Linked DNA regions of Homo sapiens: region 1 is reported to be linked to region 2. Evidence: microRNA targets listed by miRTarBase, many of them from high-throughput screens and not tested one by one. Region 2 holds a microRNA gene; the other region holds the end of a gene's coding sequence.

Region 1 (5,325 bases), not on the chromosome of region 2:
TTTTGTAGCAACTGGGTCTCGCACCAGCCTTGCCAACATTGCAAAACCCCGTCTCTACTAAAAATACAAAAAATTAGCCAGGCGTGGTGGCTCCTGGCTGTAGTTCCAGCTACTTGGGAGGCTGAGACATGAGAATCACTTGAACCTGGGAGGCACAGGTTGCAGTGAGCCAAGATGGCGCCACTGCACTCCAGCCCGGGTGACAGAGTGAAACTCCATCTCAAAAAAAAAAAAAAAAGGCGGTCTCAAACACCTGGCCTCAAGCAATCCTCCCACCTTAGCCTCCCAAAGTGCTGGGATTATGGGCATGAGTCATCGCACCCAGCTGGAAAATGCTTTCTAACCCACAATTCTTTATGGAGAGTATGTGAAGATAGATTTAAAACATTTTTAGACAAGCAAGGTCTCAATGAATTTACCTTCCATGAACCCTTTCTCAAAAAACTACTGGACAGCCAGGTGCAGTGGCTCAGGCCTATAACCCCAGCACTTTGGGAGGCCGAGGCAGGCGGATCATCTGAGGTCAGGAGTTTGAGACCAGCCTGGGCAACATGGTGAAGCCCCGTCTCCACTAAAAACACAAATAATCTGGGCGTGGTGGCAGACGCCTGTAATCCCAGCTGCTTGGGAGGGTGAGGCAGAAGAATCGTTTGAACCCAGTTGGTGGAGGCTGCAGTGAGCCAAAATCATGCCACTGCACTCCAGCCTGGGCAACAGAGTGAGGCCTCAACTCAAAAAAAAAAAAAAAAAAAAAAAAAAAAACTGCTGGAGGATGTGCTCAACCAAAATGAGGATGTAAACTGAAAAAATCAGGAAACATAGAAAACAGGAAACAGGATGTCCAGTACAAAAAAAAAAGGTAAAGGGAACACACAGGATGGTAATGAAAGATCCCAAGATGACAACTATGTTCCTCGAGGGCAACTCGTTCAGATTAAAGCAGGCAAAGGCTCCAGAAGATGGGAAGAAGTAACTGATAGACAACCCAATATATCCAAACATCTTTTGTGATTGAATTATTAAAGAAAAAATAAGACAAATTTAGTATAGGGAAAATAAAAAGTTGGGCAGAAAGAGAAAACAACTATTGTGAACTATGCAGCCAACCAAAATTATAATTGAACTAAGTTGGAAATATGGCGACATGGTTTGAACGTTTGTCCCCTCCAGATCTCATGTTGAAATGCAATCTCCAGTGTTGGAGGGGGTGCCTGGTGGGAGGTGGTGGTCATGGGGAGGAATGGCTTGGTGCTCTTCATGAAGTGATACATGAGTTCTTGCACTGAGTTCACAGCAGATATGGTTGCTTAAAGGAGTGTGGCACCTCCCCCATCTCTTGCTCCCTCTCATCATGGGATATGCTGGCTTCCCCTTTGCCTTCTGTCATGATTGGAAGTTTCCTGAGGCCTCACCAGAAGCAGATAGCAACACCATGCTTCCTGTACAGTCTGCAGAACGGTAAGCCAAAATAAACCACTTTTCTTTGTAAATTACCCAGCTGCAGGTATTTTTTTATAGCAACCCCAAAACAGCTTAATACACTTGGGGAGATGAGAAGGGTGAACACGAATGGTGGGGATAGGAAAAGGAAGAAATGAAATCCTTATATGCCAGAGAAGGGCAATAAATAACGCCTAAAACTGAAAAATCAATAAAGTAATATAAGCATGTTATTTAGCAATTTGGAGGTAAATACTGAAAAAAAGCTAAAACTTTTGAACACCTTCATTTCTGTAAGTTGGGGTACTAAGACAAGTTTTATCCAATACAAACTTGATTTTGACTGTAGAAACTAGTCTTTGTCCCACAAACAAAGTTTATCAATATCTCTTCAAAGATGTTCTTCACCTGATCATCACATTGGTTATGATCCATAAGGCAGAAGGAAACTTTTCAGCATAAGAAACTGAGTCATTAACCAGCAATTTCCAAATACTAGAAATTGCAGTATTTGTATATCATGACATCCCTTTTTTCCCAGAAGGGCTGGATGAAATATACTTATTCTATGGCAATTCAAAATTCAAGCTTTGAAGTTTCTCAGCCCTCAGTGTTCCCATTTCAACTACAGAGATTAATACAAAATCAATAGAGAACCTACAGCAATAATAAGAGAGGCTTAAGGTTGAGTTTAGAAGTAGGAGGAAGCCACCTGGCGACTGTCAACCTCACTGTGCAACAACCTCCCCTGGGGAGCTTTTAAAAAATACCCTGGTCCCATTTCTGAAATTCAGATTCAACTGGCCTGGGGTAAGGCCCAAACACCATTATTTTTAAGGTCCCCAAATGATCCCACTGTGCTGCCAAGATTGCTTTTCACAGAGTTGAACTACTCTACGTATTAAGGACAACATTTTTAGGAACCATTACGAGGCAGCAAGGTGGCAGGGGCTGAACGGCAAGGTGGGAAACTGGGTCGCTTGAAATGGCTGAAGGACATTTAAGAGGGCAAGTTGATATTTAAGCAATTGAATTAGCCTCCTGTTTGTCTCCAAAACTGAGCAGGTCACACAAGTGCCAAAGGTGGAGGGGTTTTTGGTATGAAAAGCAGAGAGTTTCAGGGAGGAGAAAGTCACGTGATGGAAGTCCTGAGAGGGCAGGGGTGTTTGTGAGCTAGCCATGGGAATGCGGGATGGCATCTGTGACACCTGAATTAGGGTAGTAACTACACAGCGAAGGGAGTGAAGTCCACACGCGTGAGGTTTGCTGCTCACCGTGCTCAGTCTCTCGGCCTGAGGTCACCACCTTAACTCCCTTATCCATATCCTGGCTCTCCTTTAATATTTTAAAACTTTGACCTGTTTACACCATTAAAATTAAGGCTAACTGAGCCTAACCTCTTCACTTTAATTCTGATAAAATGAATTGCTTAGTTGAAGTCATCTACAGCTCATTCACACTCTTCCAAGTATTTTTTATTTAAAGATGCAGGCTGAATAGATTATAAATGCATCATTTCTTCCTTTGTTTTTTTTTTTTTTTTTGAGACAGTCTCGCTCTATAGCCCAGGCTGGAGTGCAATGGTGCAATCTTGGCTCACTGCAACCTCTGCCTCCGGGGTTCAAGCAATTCTCTTGCCTCAGCCTCCTGGGTAGCTGGGATTACAGGCACCTGCCATCATGCCTGGCTAACTTTTTTATTTTTGTAGAGATGGGGTTTTACCATGTTGCTCAGGCTGGTCTTGAACTCCTGACTTCAGATGATCTGCCCGCCTTGGTCTCCCAAAGTGGAGGGATTACAGGTGTGAGCCACTGCACCCAGCCTAAATGCCTCATTTTGACCTGTCATTTCACTTAATTGCAAAACAGGATAAAATCTAATGTGTCCAACAGTAACACAAAAAAGATTACAAAAAAGATTTAACCATGACCCACATATCTAACGTTAAAAAATCATTCGTTCTCATTACCATATAACGTTAGCAATATCTACTAAATTTAGTAGTACTTAATTTCACATATATACATCATAAAAAAGATAAAATAATTGCAAAAGCATGAACGAATGTGACAAAGAGATGTTTAGCTTTAAGAAAATTAAGCCAGCAAAGAGTTTTTACGGGTGTTCATTTATTGACTGCTGGGAATACAGCCTATTGAGAATACATGACATGCATTTGGTGGAGAAATCAACTAAATCTGAAATGAAGCCATTCAGTAAGCCTGCTGTGAGTTAATAAGGTAGCACAGATTAGATCTAAGGACATGGTGGGGGCAACTCAAACAGCCACTCACAATTGTTATTAAGATTCCAGCTACAATTTCTTTTGGAACTTATTTATTCTTAATTACTTAGGAATTACCAGGAAAGAGGGAAAATCAATCTGCCTCTTTACCTTAAATTAATGCTAAGAGGGATACTGTGAATCACTAAAAAACTCTCCCCAAAATTATGTTCTTACTTCAAATCCTTTAAGGCAATTCTATTTTTACAAATTCTTCAATTTCTATGCCTCAGGATTATTAGCAGCTAAGCAGAGTTAGAAAAGATTAATAACTGATACAAAAGGCTATTCATTTGATTCTAGTGTTTACTGCTGAATTATACTGTGTTCTAATATGAGCAGATTTTTATACGATATTGCCAATTTCTTCCCCCAAGATTTTTGTTTTAATTCATTGATGCAATAAAATAAATCAAAGAATTCAAGGTACACTTAAAAGGACAGAAAGATAAGTTACTGGAGTATCTTACACCATAATCTAAAATTGTTGAATTATACATACATATAACTTGAATAAAATGAATAACTTGGATAAAGTGAGTAAAATGCTGAAATGTATCCCTAACTACAGTTTCATGCCAGGTATTTTCCCCGAACTTTGTTTCCCGAACTTAAGAAAAAAATGGATATTTTTTCTTAAGATGACAACCTTAATATCACTTGATGTTCAGGTGATTTGAGATAGTTTTTATGGTAGTAGAAAGAAAAACAGAAAGAGAAACCCCAATGAAACAAAAAAAGGAAGATTCTGGCTTTTTGTTTTCTTTTTTAAAGAGCCTGTTCCTTTCATAATCTTTCCTCCACGCTTCTGGAGAAAATGGTTATGGCGTGCAACGCTGGACAAATCGAGGGTATAAGCACACGTCTCGGATGTGATACCTATTCAGAATCCACGTTAAGAATCGTTCCAAGCCCAAGCCATATCCTCCATGGGGACATGTACCGTATTTTCTCTGTTTAAAAAAAGAAAGAAAGAAAGAGGAGTAAATACTTAAGTTAAAACTTTCATCTAAGACAGTTAAAATTTTCCACCATGAAAGGAGTTAGCTCACTGTGGTTAAGAATTCAACTATGGCCAGATTCAGTGGCTCGTGCCTGTAATCCCAGCACTTAATCTCTATGCCTTCATGAACCATGCATAAAGAAATAATTTGGTATGAAAAAATCAACCAGGGAATAAGTACTACCCTGGAAAGAAGAGATTTTTAAAAACTTTTAAAATAAGTCAATGTCTATTTATAAGAGGAAAATGAAGAAGGGTACTAGATACTGGTAGGATCAATTTTTTAAAACTCAGTTGCAATCAACAAGCCGGCCGTTAAACAGGTTTTCAAATGAAATTAACATATAACTTGGCCAAAACAAAGCTGGCAATATTCACACACCACATTATAACCTGCAAACTGAATATAGCTCATTCAAATACCAAAGTACTACCCTGAATTCTCCCCTTTTAAAAATTTCAATATATACAGAACGATTACAGTGGAAAAAAATGTTGAGTACTTAAAAAATTGGTTTTACCTGATCCGTATACCAGTAATAGGGAGTGGGGTCAATCCCTTCCCTTTTATAACCTGCCAGTATTTCTTCACTATCAA
Region 2 (5,384 bases):
GAAATTCTATGCCAGATAACAAATATCACTGTATACTGTTGTCACTCAAATATGCAAATTAAATAGAACTAACTTAGAATGTACTACTCATGGGTAATAATTGGTATGTATGCATGCTCATGGTCAATAGAAAAATAATCGTATTTGTTAAAAAAGAAGTTTCTCAGCCATGGCTTTTGTGCAACTTCTTTTACCTCCAGACAATGCATGCCCACTCTCAGTTCTGCATGAGTGGGGACCACACGTTAGAAGGGACAGAACATGCCATCAAGGAAATTGTCAAAGAAGAAGCTGATGAGTACTTTGTCATAGTCTTGAGTGATGCAAATCTGTCACGATATGGAATACATCCTGCTAAGTTTGCTCAAATCCTCACAAGAGACCCTCAAGTAAATGCTTTTGCCATTTTTATTGGCTCTTTAGGTGATCAAGCAACCAGGTAAGTGTCATCTGAGCATACAGAAAAGGGCAGGTACAGAGATACTGAGTAGCTAACACATGCTGTTTTATAGGCTTAGCACCATGAGGGACAGTGAGGCAGATGGAGGAAAAACAGAAACTAAAGTTACTAGCCTCAAGGGGTTTATAATCTAGTTGAGGGGATATGTTCTAGCTTTTGTTTAGATGAACAATAATAATTTTAAATTAATTATTTTTTAGTTTATATTTAAGCCACTAATAAATCATTGACAAATTGATTTGTCACTAATAAACCGGGTAGTATTTTATACATTTGGCACTTTATGTCAAGCTCCTAAGCTCAGGCTAATCATTTTGTGTTCAAATCATATTAAAAATCGTGAACATCTACTATTTTCCTAGCATAGGAGATAGTGTGTGTGTATGAATGTCTGTACATATTAGACATATATATACACACATATGTATTATATCCCCATAGAGACATCACCTACATATATGCATGCCTGTATATATATATAGACACACTCACATGTATCCCTTCTTATTGCTGGAGAGACAAGGCAGGTGAAACACTTGGCGACAACATAAGATAATATACATATAGTTAGATACTACACTGAATATACTAAATATTCAATAGAGAATCTTATGATCAGACAATAAATACCAGTGGGTATGATCTGAAAGGAGAGATCTGGAAACACTTTCATAACTTGAACACAATAACATTTATCTTTTTGAATTACAAACAGAAAGAGCTCATGGTTTTTCTGTGTTTAAAATACCTGTAAGAAACATAAAACACCAGTGAAAGTAATCTTAAAAAAAAAAAAAAAAATCCCTGCCTAAAGCACAAAGGGCCTACGTTTTTGTTATTCCACCCCTTTTACTTTTCATACTCTGTGACTGGAAATGTTTTAATATCCAAAATGCTAGCAGCTTTTTCTCTTTCTATTCCCTTTGCCTTGCTGTAAGGTTGCAGAGCGAGGTTGAGAACAGACTTAATATCATGTAGTTACAGTCATTTTATGACATGACTTTTCATTCTTCTTAGTTTTTACAAGTTAGCACTTTGCATCTTTTAGAACCTCCACATCCTCAAACACAAACTATGCCTTTTCCACCCAGGTTTTCCTCAGCATCAGCCCAGTATTAGGCAGACAACAAGCTCAACAAATACTAGTTGAGATGAAATGGCTATTTTGTCTTTCTAGTGAACAGATCCTGTTTGAATACTTAAGAAAGCACAATAATACCCTTGTGGTTTCCTAGGGAAATGGTCCAACATCCACTGGCAAAAGATATGTTGCAGAATTAGCTGGCTTACCAGGCATGCCAAATATACGATACTACACAGGATGGTTGAATTTTATTAAATGTCATTCCAAAGCCAGACTTCACTGGCACAGTGAAAGGAGGCGTTCTTTTGAAGAGAACTGTGTCTTACAGTTTTGTTGCCTTCAAAATGGCCTTTTGTTCCAAATTATAAATTAGTATTTAAAAAAGTATCGTAACTTCAATGACATGTTATTTTTAAGGATAATTCAAATCAAAACCCATTATAAGTTTTTTAAAATTCACTTAAAAATGAGTTGGAAAAAATTTCATAAGCCTGTATAACCTCAGTGTCATTGAAGCAGTAATTGGACAATCCAGATCGCATTTCACATTGTGTGATGTGGACCAAAAAAAAGAGAGAGAGGCAAAGAAAGAGAGAAAGAACCACTCAGGGTTTGGCTGCGCAGCGTTTTTAGAGGCCTGTTTTCTAAGGAAGGAAAAGCACTTCGAAATACAGTGTAAGGTCAACATATTTGCTAGACCCGGGAGGTGAGCTGATTCCATATGAATCCCTATGGCTCTGTTATACCAAAAGAATATGAAATACCAAGAAATGGCAGTAAAGAAAGGAAGAAAATTTTTTCTTTTCAAATTCACTGACTTTCTCACTGAAAAGACCTTTCTTTCAGTTCCCTGCTTTTGCTGTGTCTTTCCTTGTTGCTCTTCCAAGCCTTTCATTGTTTAATGACGACTAATTCAATGGTAGGCAGAGAGCAAGGTATTAGAAAGTAAAAACTTCCTTTCCTAAGAAACCATTAGGGGGCTGTGGTTTGCCAGGGCAGGAGGTGGAAGGGAGCCCCATTTACAGTGGTAACTTCCTTTCCCTTTCCATCCTGGCAGGCTTCAGAGAACTTTACCAGCTGGTCGGTCTTTCGTTGCCATGGATACCAAGGATATCCCTCAGATTTTACAACAGATCTTCACCTCCACCATGTTGTCGAGTGTCTAAGAAGTGCCCTTCATCACCCTGATGACACCAGGATTTGAAATAAGACAGGAATAAAGAGTATTCTGAAAAAAAGAAGATATGGATGAAGTGAACCCATGCAGTGACTGGATGATTCCGGCATTCCTGGGTCTTCCTACACTTGCTCCGTAATGAGAATTCAGAGAAGCAGCCAGAAGGAGACTTAAACATGGAAAGATACTCCACTGATGAGTTTAGAAGTGATTAGGGCAAGCTAGTTGACCTGCACTTTATCAAAGGTTGGGGTTAAAGGAAGGTGGTTTTGAGAACTATGTGTTTGGTCTATTTCCAAAAACCTGAGGGGGAGAAAATACTTTGCTTTTGCCTTAACACATCATCTGGTCACGTTAGAAAAGTGACCCCATCAAACTGAGCCTTTGATGTCACATTCTGACACAAGATGCAAGTCTGTGCAAAACCCACCAAAATGCTCCTATCCAACAATTATTTTTATTTTCTCCCTGCTCTGTATTGACCAGAAAACAATGATTTTATAATATTTAACCCACCAAAAAGTCCCTCCAACAGCAATATCTTATGAAAGTCTGGCTGTTCTCAATAATTTCATTTTCTTGGCCAAAGCCAAAAGGAATCAAAAAATCCTTGGAGTGCTTGCCTTTCCACGTGACTTTTAAAAGGCTCTTAAAGAGCAAATGTCCTCTTCTCCTTGCTGCTAGAGTGGGAGGAGAAAGATGTCTTGCCTTAAAAGTTTACTGTTTCTTCTGTTCTTCTAGCATCTCTCAAAAAATTCACAGTACTCCATTTTGGGGTCCAAACTGTAATGCTCAAAATAATAAATGCTTACACGAAAATTATTTATTGAGAATATTCATATAAAAATTACCTAAAGCAAAGTAAAAAAAGTAAAATCAAGGTGGTATATTTGAAGTGAATGGTGATTGGAAATTTTTAGCTGTAACAAAAAGAAAGAAAACAACTTTTTTTAAAGCCTCATTCTCTTTTCTTTCAAAATGTACCTTATTCCCACACACTCTTGGGCTGACCTTTATTTTATCAATAAGCTCAATATTACTTTGTTTAAAATAAGATGCTTCAGCAAAAGTCATTCTCTCTTTAACCATATAATTTAAAAACTCCTCTTCACGATTGATAGCAAAATCAGAAACGTTAGGGCACCAGTGAGTTGAAAAAACTGGTCTTAAGTTGGAAAAACTATTATTAATAATATTATCCTATCCATCCATATCTATTGAAATTGTACAGGTCCATAATTTCATTTTAATTAATTATAGGAAAGAAGAAAAGATAATACCCATTTGTTCTATCACCCCTCTCCCTATCATTAACTATCAAATAAATAAATAAAAGCAATCTGATTTCCAACGTGGTACTACCTGGTGAGTTTGCATGGCTTTCTTGTTCCTCTAGTGAGACACCTGCTCCATGTATTGAACCATTCAATGATGCAAACAATTTCAATCCAACATGTATCTTTAAAAATGTAATTGCATTCCAACGGTCGCCACAACAGCAGCTAGCATTTACTGATGATTTACTGTGAACCAGGTATATGCTAAGTGATTGCATACATTATTTCATTCATCCTTACAACAATGCATGTAACAGGGGTATTTTTTACCTTATTTTGCAGATGATAAAGAAAGTGAGGCTCAGAGAATTTAAGTCACTTTCCCAAGATTCCTGTTACTAGACCTTTCACTAACTATTCATGGTACCATTAACATCCTCATTTTACAAGTAAAGAAACTGAGGCTTAGAGAAGTTCAAGAAAATAGGCCACACTCACAGCCAGGCAGGGGCAAAGCTGGGCCTCCAGCCTCCAGGCCCCTTAATGCCTTTGCGTCCCTCGCAGTCCCACGCCCCTTGCTGCATCTCACAAATGTACATGTCACACTCCTGCTGCCTTTTTCTCTTCCTTCCAGTGTGACTTCTCTTCTTGTACCCTGTCCACATTCACAGGGCTCTCTTCCTCTCCCTTTCCTCAGAAAGTCTATCTATCTGCCCATATTCGAGCACTCAGAGGTGTGGGGACCGAGGACATGGGACACTGTCGGGGGAACACTTCTAACTGCTGCTTCCTTGCTAGGCACAGCAGCAATCTGAGGAAGTGCCCTTCCAAGTGGCAGCTTAACCCCAAGGGATGCCCCTTAGCTAGCGGGTCACTGCCCCTGAAAGCCTTTGGAAGTGGAATCCAAGGGAGATTAAAGGAACAGCCAACCTTTAGCAAATCCTCCCCATGCGTAACTACCTGAGGAGGCAGAAGCCATTTTTTTTGACATGGAAAGAATGTTCTCAAGTAATTTAATTTACCTTTCTCGACCAGCCAGACATCCTCTGCAATTGCTATTTTTAAAAAAGCACAGTACTCCTGGCTTTTCTGATTTGTGAAGGGGAAGGATGATGGGGAAAGGGAATTGAGACTGAGAAGACGAAGAGCTTATTTTCACTTCTTGCAATACCTAAGAAGTATGTGCATTTATTATTAAATGTACTTAATTATAGACCACTCCAAGCTGTTCCCAGGCCCTTCTTAGGGCCAAGACATTATAATAAATGCATTGTGTGCCTCGGGGGGTTCCACTGAAAGGCATCTAACCCCTGTCTCCTTAGTAAGCACATGTAATGCTGAGAAGGTTCATTGTTACCCATGAGCAGCCAGGAGGAATGAATGCCG

What was found. The annotated mature microRNA hsa-miR-5006-5p reads UUGCCAGGGCAGGAGGUGGAA and lies in region 2 at 2,532-2,552, shown strand. An mRNA with a match to its seed (bases 2 to 7 or 8) in the 3' UTR can be bound and repressed. Matches are read on the target gene's strand: a 7mer-m8 pairs with bases 2 to 8, a 7mer-A1 pairs with bases 2 to 7 and ends in A, and an 8mer does both.
Region 1: the mRNA of NARS1 is a reported target of hsa-miR-5006-5p. Seed matches in the 3' UTR shown: 7mer-m8 at 4,301-4,307.

The regions. Positions count from the first base shown.
Region 1 is chr18:57,597,107-57,602,431 of GRCh38, forward strand. It overlaps NARS1 (asparaginyl-tRNA synthetase 1), which reads right to left. Exons shown (of 14, transcript NM_004539.4): 13 at 5,249-5,325; 14 at 3,550-4,677. The coding sequence ends at 4,546. Among named protein-coding and RNA genes, the nearest start is that of FECH, 13 kb to the left of the region's middle.
Region 2 is chr13:41,565,523-41,570,906 of GRCh38, reverse strand. It overlaps MIR5006 (microRNA 5006), which reads left to right and starts at 2,512; the gene lies at 2,512-2,621. It overlaps VWA8 (von Willebrand factor A domain containing 8), which reads left to right. Exons shown (of 45, transcript NM_015058.2): 44 at 201-439; 45 at 2,602-4,072. The coding sequence ends at 2,710.